2 separate regions of the Homo sapiens genome follow, and region 2 is linked to region 1. Evidence: fine-mapped expression QTL. Tissue or cell type: whole blood. Region 1 holds a variant in brackets; the other region holds the start of a gene. All regions are shown on one strand. Distances are from middle to middle. Region 1 holds the start of TMIGD1 (transmembrane and immunoglobulin domain containing 1). Region 2 holds the start of BLMH (bleomycin hydrolase).

Region 1 (8,338 bases):
AGCTCTGATTTTTGCTTGAACAATGCTATAGTGAGGTTGTGTTGATTTAGGATGCCCTGCTCAGCCTATATTAATAATAATAGTAATAAGAGCTACTGTTTACCAAGAGCTTACTGTGCGGCAGATTCACATGCTTCATTTCATTTAATCCTCACAGTGACTCCGTAGGGAGGGTACTATTACTATTTCCATTGTATTGATGAAGATCCTGAGGCTCATGGAGGTTAAATAACTTTTCAAAGTTACATAGCTAGTAAGAGGCAGATTGCTGGTGTGCTTCAGCAGTGTGTTAAAATGTGTAGATAACTATAAATATTCTTCTGTTATATTTTTGTGTAAATGGGAACAATAGTACTTGGCAGATAAAATTTGCATCGTTAACAATACCATAAACATAGTGTAATGCAAGGATCTCCCAATCAGGTGAGAGCCTCAAGAGGATAAAACTGTTCCCTAGGCCAAGGTGGGCAGATTGCTTAAGGCCGGGAGTTAGAGACCAGCCTAGGAAACATGGCGAAATTTCATCTCTACCAAAAATATATATATTAACAAAGTTTAGCTGGGCATGGTGACTCACGCCAGTAGTCCTAGCTCCTTGGGAGGCTGGGAGCAGAGGTTCAGTCAGCCACAATTGTGCCATTGCATTCCAATCTGGGTGACAGAGTGAAACCCTGCCTCAAAAAACAAAACAAACAACAACAACAAAAAAACGGCTCCCTGCCATGCCTGGCTTGGTACAGCTTATGCACTGGGCTTGGGTTACTAGTGGTAACTAAGACTTTTCCAGCATTATTTAAGTTGTGTAGAATCTTCCAATGTTTTGACCTCTGTTAAAGTCAAACTTCTCTTTGGACTCGTCCCTTCACAATCCCCAGGCTAGATGATCAAAACGCAGCCATCTTACTTAAATATGACAATATTCAGTGAGATGCGCTACAGATTTTTGCACAAGTTCAAGCTTTCTTGGAACAACACATCCCTGTTAGTAATATCCGGCCCCACCTAGTAACCGAGGTAGACATAGAAACTTAGATCTTAAGAAGATGTCTTTCCCAATTACTATCTTCTCTAAGACTCCATAAAGAAAAACAGACTTTGAACCCAAGTTATCTTATTTATTTGACCCTGCTGTCATAAAGCGTTCAAATTCAAGTATTATAAAGGATTGTAACAGGGAAAGCATTTAGGGTTTTCAGGCAGAGGAACAGTTGGCCAAGGAAGTCAGCTTCTCAGAGCTCAAGAGGTAAGTGGTAAGACTGTCTTATATAGAAAGTAGAGAGTCATACAGATTAAAAACAAGCCAAGTGAGGGGAATACATTTTGAAAAGTTGCTGTCTCGGTGGAGTGGAGGGAAAGAGAAGACATAGATTTGTCCCCTTAATAGGGCTGGGTGAGGTCTGGCAAGAAGCCTGCACTCTCAGTTTTTATTGAGTACTTGTAGTGCAGAGCGCTTGAGAAAACTCTACTATTGACCACATTCTGCAGTAATCACTGTTACAACACTGTGATAGAAATCTTTTTGGCAAATATTTAAAATTACAAAAGAATCAATATTAGTAGTAATTGCATCTTACGAAAAGATTGATGCAGGCTTGTCTGCCAGAAAGGGTGAGCCTGGCATGAATGAAACTTACTCCTGTCAGGGCACGCCTGGGACAGGGGAGGAGTAGAGTAGGTATAGGTATATTTCAGCTCTTGTAAATTAATACTGGTGTTAAGGGGAGAGAACTCCCAGTGGCCAGGGACTGGAAAAGATTAACAGCAGCTTTTTTTTATTTTTTTATTTTTTATTTTTATTTTTTGAGACCGAGCCTCACTCTGTCGCCCAGGCTGGAGTGCAGTGGCATAATCTTGGCTCACTGCAACCTCCACCTCCCAGGTTCAAGCAATTCTCCTGCCTCAGCCTCCCGAGTAGCTGGGATTACAGGCGCTCGCCACCATGCCTGGCTAATTTTTTTTTTTTTTTTTTGCATTTTTAGTAGAGATGGGGTTTCACTATGTTGGTCAGGCTAGTCTCAAACTCCTGACCTCAGGTAATCCACCTGCCTCAGCTCCTAAAGTGCTGGGATTACAGGCATGAGCCACTGCACCCAGCCTAACAGCAGCTTCTTAAAGGAAAAGAATATTAATCTAGGCAGTAGATTGGGTAGTAGGGTGGTTGAGAGTAGGGTGGTTAAGAGCATGGTCTTGGGAGTCTGGGTTCAAATCCCGACCTTGACATTTACTGTCTGTGGGATCTCAGGCAAATTACATAGTCTCTTTAAATCTATAGAAACGACCTCAGGAGGGTTGTTAGGAGGCTTAATTGTGACTGAAATGATGTATGTAAAGTGTTTAGCACAGTCCCTGTTGCGCAGAAAGTTTTCCGTATGTGGTTCGCTATATTTATAGTAGTACTCTTGAAAGGAAGTAATGAATATATGTTTTTTTCCCAGATGGAAATGGAGAATATCTTAGGGAGAGGGAGAGTTGAAGCAAAAGCAAGAAGGGAGAAAGGACACCTTTATTATTTATTATTTTTAGTCCATTGGGTCAAGGGGAAGAGAGAGAGAGAATAGTGGGAGAAAGACAAGATTAACATGGTTTAAACTAGAGGCCATGTTTCAATTGAGGCTTTTCTACGTACACACCATTTGAATCTATGGGATTTGGAGTAGTCTCAAAAACTCTCTATTATCAGAGAACATCTTTACAAAAATGACCCAAGAAAAACTTTCAGAACAAGAATTACTTTGTTCAGTAGGGACTGTCTGAGAATGAGACAAGTTTCATTCTGCTAAAATGAAATTCTATCAGTTTCTCTAGGGAAGACTGGTTTCATCTTCCCCAGGGCACCCTGACGCTGCTCTATCTGTCATAGCCTATTTCCTGTGGTTTTATGTTGCTTTTAAAAAAAATTTCTTACTACTAAATGTACTTTGAACTTAGTCAGACAGGGTTGTTTAATTAAAAGCTAGAAGTAGTACCGTTATAGCTGGGATGATTCATCTGGGACTTCACTTTAAATGCATAATAGACAGAAGGAAGGTTCACGAACTCATTGCAGACCAAAGTACAAAACCAACTGCACTATTTTTCCCTTAGTAGATCTGAGTTTAACTCATTAAAGATGGCATGGAAGAGCAGTGTCATAATGCAAATGGGAAGATTTCTTCTCTTAGTAATTTTATTTCTGCCACGTGAGATGACAAGTAAGTTAAAGTTCTTTTTGGCCTCTTTTTAGATAAAGAAAAATTTCCGATTAAGAAAAGTGATCAATGGGCATTGGATATATCCTTAAATTCCAAATTGGAATGACTACACAGTTAGCATGGCTCACAGTACAGGAGTCAACTAACAATAAAAAATCAAATGGAGGCCAGGCGGGTGGCTCACGCCTGTAATCCCAACACTTTGGGAGGCCGAGGCAGGTGAATCATGAGGTCAGGAGATCGAGACCATCCTGGCTAACACGGTGAAACCCCATCTCTACTAAAAATACAAAAAATTAGCCTGGTGTGCTGGCAGGCGCCTGTAGTTCCAGCTACTCGGGTGGCTGAGGCAGGAGAATGGCGTGAACCCAGGAGGTGGAGCTTGCAGTGAGTGAGCCGAGATTACGTCACTGTACTCCAGCCTGGGCGACAGGGCGAGACTCCGTCTCAAAAAAAAAAAAAAAAAAATCAAATGGAAAAATATTGTTTTTAGGGTTTTATTATTACAAGACAAGGTGAAGTATTCTATTCTCTCCAGAGCCACCACCAGAATCCTCCTACATTTTAATGCATTTTATTACTAATGTTACCCCAAATAATCATCTGTTTATCTGAACATACCATTTCACATGAAAATCTTTCCAGCATTTGCTCTCCTACCACTCTTTTCTGATTTTAAAAGTAATGCATAGTCATTGTAAAATAAATCAGGCAATCTATAAAAAAAAAAAGAAAAGTACAAATCCCCCCAAATACTTTCATCCAGAGATGACAACCACTCAATATTCCATATTTTAATAAAATACTAGACAACAATACCATTATCTTTACAAGTAGCTTAAGTTTTTTGCTTTTTTGAGAAGAAGTCTCACTTTGTTGCCCAGGCTGGAGTGCAGTGGTGTGATCTTGGCTCACTGCAACCTTCATCTCCCAGGTTCAAGTGATTCTCCTGCCTCAGCCTCCCGAGTAGCTGGGATTACAGGAGCCCGCCACCATGCCTGGCTAATTTTTTTGTATTTTTAGTAGAGACAGGGTTTCACTATGTTGGCCAGGCTGGTCTCAAACTTTTGACCTCAGGTGATCCGTCCGCCTCAGCCTCCCAAAGTGTGGGATTACAGGCATGAGCCACCATGCCCGGCCAGCTTAAGTGTTTTAAAAGGAAGGTTAATGTGTTTACAGAACATATTAACAAATGTTATCTGGGGTACAGGTTTATGACAGATAAAGTTCTTTTTTAGCTTTTGTTACTTGCTTCTGAATCAGAAAAATAAAAACCGAAATTCAGGTGTATTACTATGCAATGAATAGGTTTCTAAAAGTC[A/G]GAGCTGAAAAACAAAACAAAACAAAAAAAACCTGGTATGTATCCTGATCACCCAACCCACAAAGACTGGTCTACCACACAAACCTCAACTACTTAAACATCTTTTTATTTTTCTTCACTGCCAAAACAATATTAAAACATTATAGATGCAAGACCCAATTTGTCCATAATCCTATCATTTAAGCAGAAAATGTTTTCAAATCAGTTCTTACTCATCTGCATGTGCAATTTTGATACATTTGTAGTAATTATTAGAGCTTTAATTTATATTCTGCCTTTTTGCCTAAAGTTTATACCTTAAATATTTTTCCATTTCATTCCCTTGCTTTCCCACTTTCAATCCCTTCAAGTAAACAAATTAAATATGGTATGTGTATATGTATATACATATATGCATGCGTGTGTGTGTATTCAATATATATGGGTTTTTTCCTGTCTTTTTTCCATGAAAAAATACTTCCATGTATACACACATACACACATATGTGTATGATCATTCTGTATGTATTGATTTCTAACCTGATGCTTCTCAAATCACCGGGGGTCGGGGGGTGGGGTGCCTTTAAACAACACAATGCCCAGATTGCACTCATGTCAACTAATCAGATGTCTGGGGATGAGAATCAGGCATCAGTACTTTTTTTTGGGGGCAAGGTCTTGCTCTATCACCCAGACTGGAGTTCAATGGTGCGATCTTGGCTCACTGCAACCTCCACCTCCTGGGCTCAAGCGAGTCTCCCACCTTATCCTCCCAAGTAGCTAAAAGTATGGGTGCACACCACCATGCCTGGCTAATGTTTTTTTTTTTATTTTTTTATTTTTTGTAGAGACGGAGTCTCACTATGTTACCCAGGCTGATCTTGAACTCCTGAGCTCAAGCGATCCTCCCGCCTCTACCTCCCAAAGCCCTGGGATTATAGGCACAGCACCCAGCTACATCAGTACTTTTTAAAAGATCCCCTGGTGATTCCAATGTGCACAAAAATTTGATGACCACATTTTAATCTTTTTCTTTTTCAGTTAACAATACATTATGAATATTTTTCATTATAAAATCATATAGATCAATATGACTATTTTTAATCGTTGAGAGTTTATTTTGTTCTACTGATGTAACATAACTTATTTAACCAATCCCCTGTTCATGAGCATTAAGGTTGTTTACTCTGTATATCTAAATAGTTTCTCCCTATACTCCCAGGTTCTGTTTTAACTGTGAATGGTAAAACTGAGAACTATATCCTGGATACTACACCTGGCTCCCAAGCATCTCTGATATGTGCTGTTCAAAACCACACCAGAGAGGAAGAACTGCTCTGGTACCGAGAGGAGGGGAGAGTGGATTTGAAATCTGGAAACAAAATCAATTCCAGCTCTGTCTGTGTCTCTTCCATCAGTGAAAATGACAACGGAATCAGCTTTACCTGCAGGCTGGGGAGGGATCAGTCCGTGTCCGTTTCGGTGGTGCTGAATGTTACTTGTGAGTGAGGGGAAAAGAAACAGCTAGTGGGTCTGTAATGTCTGTAACACATGAAGTGGTAGTTGAAATCTAGGTCTTGGTATTGCCAAATTGCCCAATTTATGCTCCTACCACAAAGTATGAGAGTACCTATTTCCCCTCACCCTCATGAGCACTGAGTATCGCCAAACTCTGAGAATTTGCCAGCCTCCTTTGAAATTTTCTTTTCCTTTTCTTTTTTTTCTTTTCTCTTTTCTTTTCTTTTTTCTTTTTCTTTTTTCTTTCTTTCTTTTTTTTTTTTTTGAGACAGAGTCTCGCTCTGTTGCCCAGGCTGGAGTGCAGTTCAGTGGCGCAATCTCGGCTCACTGCAACCTCCACCTCCCGGGTTCAAGCGATTCTCCTGCCTCAGCCTCCTGGGTAGCTGGGACTGCAGGTGCCCACTACCATGCCCAGCTAATTTTTAATTTTTGTATTTTTAGTAGAGACGGGGGGTTCACCATGTTGGCCAGGCTGGTCTCAAGCTCCTAACCTCGAGTGAACCGCCTACCTCAGCCTCTCAAACTGCTGGGATTACAGGTGTGAGCCACTGCACCCAGCCTGTTTTCATTTTTTAAATTAAGAATGAGGGTGTTCACCTTTGTGTAAACATAATGGTCTTTTTTTTGTTTGTTTCCATGAAATGCCTGCTTGTATCCTTAACTCATTTTTTTCCGTTGGGTTTTATGCTTTTTTCTCATTAATCTGTACAAGGGCTTTGTAGATTAAGGAAATTAGTCCTTTGTCATTTTGAATTGTAAGTATTTCTCCTATTTGTTTTTGAAAATTTTTATTGTTCTTTTTTGCCATATTGAAATTTTAAATGTTTATATATTTAAAGCTTCAAGTCTTTTCCTTTGTAGTTCCTAGCTTTTGTGTTCTGCTTAGACAGATTTTCATGGCCTGGCACAGTGGCTCATGTGTGTAATCCCAACACTTTGGGAGGCAGAGGCAAATGGATCACTTAAGATCAGGAGTTCGAGACCAGCCTGACCAACAATGGTGAAACCTGGCCTCTACTAAAAATACAAAAATTGGCCAGGTGCGGTGGTAGGCACCTGTAATCTCAGCTACTCAGGAGGCTGAGGCAGGAGAATTGCTTGAACTCAAGAAGCAGAGGTTGCAATGAGCTGAGATGCCACCACTGCACTCCAGCCTGGGCAACAGTGTGAGACCCATCTCAAAAAAAAAAAAAAAAGATTTTCATTAGGGAATCTTTAAACATCACCTTAAAATCAAAAAAGGTGAAGCTTTTCAATGATTGGGTTCCAGGTATTGGTAACCCATTGGTAGAACTGTATAGGCTTAGGGGACTGTCAAGTGATACAATGTAGATGATCACATGGGTTGTTGGGTGAAAAGCTGGTTCTGCATGAGAATGGTGTGGATGGTATGGCAATGGGTGAGGTATAATGATGCAGTATGATTTGGTAGAAAGACCCTATCTCTACAAACATAACATAGTGAGACCCTATTTCTACCAAAAAAAAAAATAAGGTGTGTTTTTAATTAGCTGGGCATGGTGGCACACATCTGTAGCCCCAGCTGCTCGGGAGGCTGAGGCTACAGGATCTTCTGAGCCCAGAAGTTTGAGGCTTCAGCGAGCTGTGATTGCGCCACTGCATTTCAACCTGGGCAACAGAGTGAGACCCTGTCTCAAAAAAAATAAAATAAAATAAAATAAAATAAAAAGCCAGCTAAGGAAACTAAGGCCCGGACTAGGGGCTCAAATCATAGGTGCAGCTGAGAATAAAACACTAATTCCCAAGCTTCTAACCTAGTGCTTAAGTGCTTATTCCACGAAACTTTTTTTTTTTTTGAGACAGGGTCTCACTCTGTCACCTACACTGGAGTGCAGTGGCACAATCTCAGCTCACTATAACCTCTGCCTCCCAGGCTCAAGTGATCTGCCTGCCTCAGCCTTCCAAGTAGCTGGGACTACAGGCGTGCACCACCAGGCCGAGCTGATTTTTGTATTTTTTGTAGAGACGGGGTTTTGCTATGTTGCCCAGGCTGATGGAACCCTCTTAAGGGAGACATGGCAGAAATGCCAACAATGTGATTTGATGACTTAAAGAAATTGTTTTCAGTTTTCTAGCCTCAATCCACTGTTTAAATTCTGTTTATAACAATCTCCTAAATATCATTGTTGCTAAGTGTGTGTGTGTGTGTGTGTGTGTGTGTGTGTGTATAGTTAATTGCTCAGTAATCCATAATGACAGTACTGACACAAAGTCATCAACCAATAAATCAAAATGAGCTCATAAAATGTGACAAGGATATTATGTACCCTTCAAAGGCAGGACCATTATTGTTATAAATAGCAGAATC
Region 2 (8,338 bases), 39 kb after region 1:
AGACATAGGGTTTTGCCATGTTGCTCAGGCTGATCTCCAACTCCTGAGCATTCTGCCTGCCTCAGCCTTCCAAAGTGCTGGGATTCCAGGCATGAGCCACTGCCCGGCCAGCTCAAAAATTTTAAATTACCATGCAGGCCAAACAAAACGTCTCAAAGCTGAATTTGCTCCAGTAGACTACCAATGTGTGAACTCTGAAGCTGACTATCACATCTAGTGAAATATAAGGAGGCTTCCTGACCAAGGCAAATCTTGGAGTTAGTGGGACAACACTTAAGTATGAATGAGTTTCATAGAATTGGAGAATGTTTGTGTTAGATTCTAGCCTAGACTTCCATTCAACATAAAAACCTGGTCTTTTCTATTGAAATAGAAGTAGTTGCGGCCGGGCACAGTGGCTCATGCCTGTAATCCCAGCACTTTGGGAGGCCGAGCCAGGCGGATCACCTGAGGTCAGGAGTTCGAAACCAGCCTGGTCAACATGGTGAAACCCCGTCTCTACTAAAAATACACAAGTTAGCTGGGTATGGTGGCCAGGTGCCTGTAATCCCAGCTACTTGGGAGGCTGAGGCAGGAGAATTGCTTGAACCTGGGATGCAGAGATTGCAGTGAGCCGAGATCACGCCATTGCACTCCAGCCCGGGGGACAAGAACGAGACTTCATCTCAAAAAAAAAAAAAAAAGAAGTAGTTGACAAACACATGTCAAAGATTGGTGGACAGCAAAGGAGGAGACACAGGGTGGAAAATTTGCCTTGAGACTGGCCTTGTTTGCTTTAACTTGGTAGAGTGGCATGGAAGCAACAGGCAGAAGGCATATCTGCAGTGGCAAATGGTGCTGCCTCACAGGATTTATAAAGATTTTCTTTTCTTTCTTTTTAGAGAGAGCTGAGTACAGCAGTGTGATCATAGCTCACCGCAGCCTCAAACTCCTGGGCTCAAGTGATCCTCCCGTCTCAGTCTCCTGAGTAGCTAGGTCTAAAAGTGTCTGCCACCACATTCAGCTAATTTTTTATAAAACTTTTTCTTTCTTTTTTTTTTTTTTTTTTTGTAGTGGTGGAGTTTCACTATGTTGCCCAGGCTGGTCTTCAACTCCTGGCCTTGAACTCAAGGCAGGAATCCTCCCACCTCAGCTTCCCAAAGTGCTGGGATTACAGGCAATATTTTCTTTTTTAATATTAGAGACTTCATACTAGAATTCTGTTTCTGGTTGCTTTGTCCCACGAGGTGTCACCGGGCTGTACAACATCTCTTCTGGCTGGAATAAGAAGGATAGAACACAGAATTTTCTTCTTGGAGAAATGTCTTCCTGGGTAGGTCATTTGGGGGTAACCCACTGGGAAACCGGTTTTATTCTGTACCTCCTCACCATGCCCATATGGGGGCTGAGTGCATGGGTGTGAATTGCTGGGTGGAAATCTGGTAATAAGGGTGCCACCCTGATGATGAGGACAGAGCAGGAGGCCAGCAAAGAGATGATGATAGAAATCTCTGGGCATGGGGTGGAGAAATGTAATCGCCAGTATGGAAAGGGTGGCAATAGCTGTAAAACTGGTCCCCTCCACCTTCCCCAGTGATTCCATCTCCTCCTGAGCTCTTACTCTTGCAATTGTATCCTCTCTGACACATATTTAATCTCTCATCTGTACTGGTTCCTTCCTCTCATCCTCCAGTAGACACAAATTTACCCTTTCTCCCCAAAGAGCTTCCCTAATATTTACCTCCCTCTCAACTCATTACGATGTGGCTTCTGCCCACCCTTCCCTTCCACTAAAACTGCCCTCTCTAAGGTTGCCTGTAACCCAGTTGCCAAAACCAATCTTACTTGACTTTCTGCAGCTTTTAATTCAATTCACTGTCCTCTCCTTGCCTTCCTGGGATTCCAGGACATAACTCCCCGGGTCTCCTACTTCGCTGACTGATCTTTCTATTTCTGCTGGCTCCTCTGTCTTCACCCATACTTTAAACATTATCATTTTCAGAGCTAATACTACTCCCATATGGCATCCTTATAAGAAGTTGTGAAAGGGGCCAGGCGTGGTGGCTCATGCCTTTAATTCCAGCACTTTGGGAGGCCGAGGTGGGCAGATCACGAGGTCAGGGGTTCAAGACCGGCCTGGCCAACATGGTGAAACCCCGTCTCTCCTAAAAATACAAAAATTAGCCGGGTATGGTGGTGCGTGCCTGTAATCCCAGCTACTCAGGATGCTGAGGCAGGCAAATTGCTTGAACCCAGGAGGTGGAGGTTGCAGTGAGCCGAGATTATGCCACTGCACCCCAGCCTGGGTGACAGAGTGAGACTCATCTCAAAAAAAAAAAAAAAGTAGTGAAAGGTACATCATACTCTGTGCACAGCCTGGGCCAGGGTGCATGGCTTGGCAAGCAGAGCCTGGACTGCATTTTAGTCCCTACTCACCACACTCAGCCTGGTGCCCTTGTGCCATGAACACCCTGTGCAACTGCACATTGCAGCCCAGGGCACTATCTGTGGTCTTCATCTCTTTATTGCTCTATCCTCTTTCCCTCTGTAACCCTGCTGACTTTCATTGTTCCACCTCGAACCTATGTGTCTCATCTAATCTCTAGACATCTTTTCATCTACGTCCTGAACTTCTCTTCCTGGGTGTCCTGTGGGGCATCCTAATTTTGCTATGGCCCAAACTCAGTTCAGATCTGCACACTTGCAAATATGCAAATATGCCTATTTTTCTGTATGCCCTCTCTTGGTTAATGACACCACCTTCCATCTTCTTATTCCGCTGAAAACTTCAAGATTATCAATGCCTCTTCCCTTTCCGCAATGTAAGGCTTTTGTCCTCTCCCAAGTTCACTACTGGAAGAACCTTCTAACCAGTTTCCCTATCTCCAGAGCCCCTCCCCTCCAAATTACTCTCCCCACTGCCACCAGGTTTCTTTTTTTACACAGACTTGAGCATATTTTTCCTTTGTTTCAAAACCCATTTTGTCTTCTAATTAACCATAAGATAAAGTCCAGATGCTCAGGCATTGAACATAAAACCCTTTATATCTTGGCCCAAACCTACAAAACTTTTCCAGTCCTACACCTTGCCTCTGCTCCCAAAACATGCCTTGCTCTTAGCCACATCCGATTATGATGCACCCTTTCTTGAACATGATTTTATTCACTGCGCCTTCGCTGGTGCCTTGAATGCCCTTCTCCTGTTCTTTGACTTGTAAAAATCTCATCCACTCTTCAAGATCATGCTCTCTTGTCACTTCTATTTTCAGGCACCCTTTGGCCCTAATTGACAGTGCTCTCCTCATTGCTTCTACAGTCTACAGCACTATTGGTATGCTACTACAGATAGTCTAAAAGTTGTTTTGCATCTCTTTCCTACTACATTGAGTTTCTTAACGGCAAGATTAAGCTTTGTTCGTCTCTATGTCATCAGCAGTTTGTCCAGTGCCTAGTACATGTTAGATACTGAATAAAAATTTATGACTTGAATTGGGCAGGATGCTTGAACATCATTTTGTGAAAGGACCAGTGATTTCTTTCTGTATAATTTTCAGCCTCTTCTTTTTCAGATATTGAAAGAACCTCAGAATAGGATGGTTGATGGGCCCACTTAAGATAGTTGCTATGTTATAGCCCCAATTTTTAGCCGAGTCTCTCTAGGGACATAGAAACCGTGCTTTCTCAAATGACTGATTGGTGCCTGAGTATGGATTTTTCCAGATATCAGAGTTCCTTAGAACTGCGATGATTTTCAATCTAAGAAGACCTAGATTCTAGGTTACACACACACACACTCAACCTCATCGTTTTGAATAGCAGATACAGGGTTTCAGTGTTTTTGTTTTACTCTCTGTGGGTTCTATCCCAGCATCTTACTAAGGGCTGAGATTTCAGGGCATGAAACACGGAATCAACAAAAACAAGGTTTTTACAATCTCAAAACTTTGGGAAACTGTTGAGTTATCTTGAAAGCCTAGAGGGGGAGCATCAGTTAGTTTTGTAGAGAACTCGGCGAAACAATATTGATGCATACGGCTAGCCTCTGTCATCCTCCTGAGTTAAACCCAACGGGACATGCTGGACTATACAGGAGCCACTCGTGGACTCCGTGAAGACCAGATGGGTAGTGTTCTTGAAATGAGCAGATGTCTATTTGTAGAACTCTGGTAGTAGCTTTGGAGTGGGTGGGGAAGAGCTTGGTTCCCATTCCCCCTCAAAGACAATTATTTGCTTCTGATGAGAATCCAAGCAACAAGTTGCCATTGAGAATGCAGTGATTGGTCAGCAAACGAAGCCTATAGGAAGAGCCTTCGGGTGCATTCCTTGTGACATATCGACCCGTCCTAAGCCCGACGCTTAATTATGGGACCTCTCAGCTCCTCCCTCCCGCCTCGAGCTCCCTTTTGGCTTCTCACAAGGCTTCCTGGGGACGATTCCCCGATGCTAGAGTACTGGGGGTCTGGGCCCACAGGGAACCCGTCAGCCTCCCTCCTTGGAGCGGGCCTGATCCCGGGAGGGCGCCCGCGCGGCCCGGAGGCGGGAACCTAGGGGGAGAAGGCGCCGGCGCCGCCCTGGCGCGCAGACCATCTGTGCGGTCCTGCGCGGGGGCAGGCGCGGCCTCAGCCCCCGGGCGCTGGCGGACCCAGCGCGTCAGCTAGGCCGCCCCCGTCGGCCCTCCCCCGGGCGGGGCCAGCCCCGACGGCGCTGACTCAGCAACGCGAGGGGGGAGTTTTGTCCCTCCGCGGACCCCGTTTCTCCCAGCCTCAGCCTCCCCGCCGCCGCCGCCGCCGCCGCCGCCGAGCCGGTTTCCTTTTTCCGGCGCTCCGGGTGCGAGAGACAGGTCGGGCCCCCTAGGCAGCGAGCCGCAGCGCAATCCCGGCGCTCGCCCAAGGACCCTGGAAGCTACCGTTACCCCGCCGGGCAGCGTGGGCGCCATGAGCAGCTCGGGTGAGGTGCCGCCGTCCCCCGCCGCGGTCCTCTGGAGGAGCTCCGCGGTCCCCGTGAGGCCCGGCGGCGGGGAAGGCCGGGGGCTGGGACCCTTGGCGATGGCGGGGAGGGAGCTTTCGGGGCAGGCTGGATCGGCCTGGAGGGAGACAGCTCCTTGGAGGAGGATGCCGCTTATGGGTTTCCCCGCTGCAGCGGGCACCCCAGGATGCGCTTACGAAGTTAGATTCGGGACGCGGGAGCCCCAGATCAGCCCTTTCCCCCTCTTTTTGCGTTAAAATCCTGTTTGGTCTCCCAACAGGACTGAATTCGGAGAAGGTAGCTGCTCTGATACAGAAACTGAATTCCGACCCCCAGTTCGTACTTGCCCAGAATGTCGGGACCACCCACGACCTGCTGGACATCTGTCTGAAGCGGGCCACGGTGCAGCGCGCGCAGCATGTGTTCCAGCACGCCGTGCCCCAGGAGGGCAAGCCAATCACCAACCAGAAGAGCTCAGGTGTGGGCTTCCACTTCTCCCATACGTTCCTTGACCTTCCTGACAGCGTCCCATTTTGGTGTCTTATTTAAGAGTGGTCTTAAATTCGTACTGAAAGAACTGGTCGTAAATTCGTAAAGAATGAGGCACAGGTACAGGCAGGTCTAAGAACATTACCCATGTGGTTTGTTTTGCTGTTCTGTGGCTTGTTAGTACATGCGGTTAGAGTACAAAAGTGACATGTCCATGAGTATACGTTTGAGTGTAATTGACTATATTATGTTCCAATGCTGTGTGGTTTGTAGCCCGTGTCTTGGAGATGTATGGTCTTGGTCACAAAACAGAACATGTGAAAATGTTCATATCTTTGGAGGACTCCCCAGAAATGCCCTGAAGGCCCTATACTATGAAATAGAAAAGATACAATGTAATTACATTAAAATGTCATCAGATGTTACTTTTAAATATGCTTCTTGGTTACAACTGAAGCTAATGTGCTGATGGGCTCAGTTCCCACCAGTAGATCAGTTTGTAATACAGAAAAAAGTTCTGTTCTCATGCCTTGCTGGTCAAGAAGTCTCGTTTTGCTATCTGCTTTCTAGCACCACTCTCAGAAAAAACAGGTATAGTGAAAGATTGGATATCCAGCAATCTAAATAAGGAGCACATTCTCACAACAAAATTGTACTAAACGGATTTTTTAAAGTCTTTCTATACTTAAAAACGACCCCCCAGTCTATCTATACGGACAGGAAGCACATCAGTGCTTGTTTAGAGTCGGTTAGAACTCACAAAGCACACATTTAACGTGAGTACATTTTATTGTATGTACATTATACCTGAATAAAGTTGATTTTTTAAATGTTAAGGAAAAAGTCAAGACCTTACAATAATTAATGTTTTGCTTTAGAAGAAAGTGCTTGGAGTGGTGTGGGCTCTCAGGCTACAGATGATCCAGTTAGTAATGTCACAGTGGTCCTACATAGTTTAGATTGCAGTGACCCGTTAGGGAACAGGTCAGGTCTTACACATTTTGCAGTGTCACTTTTACATACAAAAGATCCAAATAGCATGTGAGTTGTGTAGTTTATTTTCATGCAGTTTTCACATCACCAGTGCATCCAGATCCCCTCTACTAGAAATATATAGCATATAGAAGAGAGGTGACATACAGGTAAATGTAAGGTAAAGACGAACTAATAGGCACTAGTGACTTTCATAAAACACTATAGTTAACTAGAGTTTTCTTCTTGTTACAAAATTATTTTTGTTTAATGTAGAATATTTGTAAATACCAAGTAAATATTTTTCTTGTATATTTGTCAAGTTTTGTGTGTGTGTGTGTGTTTAATAGTGTTTAATATGCATTGATACCTTATACATTGTTATGTAAGCTACCTATCTTTTTCACTTACCAATATATTATAAACATATTTTCATATTAGTAAAAAGGTTATACCCAATACAAGTCAAAGTTTTTCCCTCAGAATTTTCCCTCAGAAAAGAGATAATTTCCCTGTATTTAAGACCTTAAAAGACTTTTCTAATGGCGCTCTCAGTTAATTTATTTTGAAGTAGAGTACAATTTGGAGAAGGCATTACTCTGAAAAATGGATTCTTTATTTGATACGTAAAGAGTGTTTTTGTGTTAAAGATATTAAACCTTTGCATATATATTGCTAATAATAATTACCACCTTTCTTGTTTTGTTTTTAATCTTTCTGCTCTTTCTGATTTACTCTTTCTGAATTGTCCAGATCGTGTCATGAGTTCATTGGTGGGAAATACAGTTGGAGCAGTGCAGTCTATGTGAACCCTCATAATTTCTTGATGTGCTTTCTTGTTTCAGGGCGATGCTGGATCTTTTCTTGTCTGAATGTTATGAGGCTTCCATTCATGAAAAAGTTAAATATTGAAGAATTTGAGTTTAGCCAATCTTACCTGTTTTTTTGGGACAAGGTATGGGACAGATCTGGCAAGATTCTTTTTGTATTGATATCAGCCTTGGTAGGGACTGCCTCTTCTTTTGTAGCTTTTCCAGTTATAGCCTGCCCTTTCATAATAGGTGAGACACCTTTTATTCTGACTTCCAGAGTATCAAAAGTTGACTCTTTCAAAGGCAGAACTGTTTTTGGTTGGTAGGTGGCCATTTTTTTGCAATGAAATAAGTTTACTGACTCATCTTACTGCTTGCTTGTCTATTTAAAATTTTAAATTTTATATTCAATATTCAATTCAATATATCTCCCTTTTTAACATCTTTTTAGGTTATTTGTTCTTTTCTAGGACCTAATTTCCCTCTCAAGAACTTGTCTGAAAAACAGTAAATAATTTTATTTGATTGTTTATTTGTTTATTTATTTTTTTGAGACAGTCTCACCCTGCCACCCGGGCTAGAGGGCTGTGGCACAGTCTCGGCTCACTGTAACCTCTGCCTCCTGGGTTCAAGCCATCCTCTCAACTCAGCCTCCCAAGTAGCTGGAATCACAGGCACATGCCACCATGCCCAGCTAATTTTTGTATTTTTAGTAGAGACAGGGCATTTCACCGTGTTGGTCAGACTGGTCTCGAACTCCTGACCTCAAGTGATCTGCCTGCCTTGGCCTCCCAAAGTGCTGGGATCACAGGTGTGAGCCACCACTCCTGGCCATATTCCATTTCCTAATCTTCAAAATGTATATTACTGACCTGGTTTGGTGGCTCATGCCTGTAATCCCAGCACTTTGGGAGGCTGAGGTGAGAGGATTGCTTGAGCCCAGGAATTTGAGACCAGTCTGGACCTGGCGAAACCCCATCTCTACAAAAAATACAAAAATTAGCCACGCGTGGTGCACACCTGTCCTCCCAGCTACTCAGGAGGCTGAGGTAGGAGGATTGCTTGAGCTCAGGAGGTTGAGGCTGCAGTGAGATTGCACCACTGCACTCCAGCCTAGGCAA

Evidence for each region.
Region 2: BLMH starts here. The variant in region 1 is fine-mapped to the expression of BLMH in whole blood (TOPMed, PIP above 0.99).

The regions. Positions count from the first base shown.
Region 1 is chr17:30,326,905-30,335,242 of GRCh38, reverse strand. It overlaps TMIGD1 (transmembrane and immunoglobulin domain containing 1), which reads left to right and starts at 1,186. Exons shown (of 7, transcript NM_206832.3): 1 at 1,186-1,243; 2 at 3,085-3,191; 3 at 5,714-5,992. The coding sequence starts at 3,110. The variant A/G (reference allele first, on the strand shown) is at 4,513.
Region 2 is chr17:30,288,395-30,296,732 of GRCh38, reverse strand. It overlaps BLMH (bleomycin hydrolase), which reads left to right and starts at 4,789. Exons shown (of 12, transcript NM_000386.4): 1 at 4,789-4,926; 2 at 5,225-5,422; 3 at 7,251-7,360. The coding sequence starts at 4,914. LOC124903971 (a long non-coding RNA gene) reads right to left here and starts at 2,043. Exons shown (of 2, transcript XR_007065700.1): 1 at 1,193-2,043. RefSeq lists silencers at 4,379-4,788, 4,989-5,058 and an enhancer at 5,509-5,568.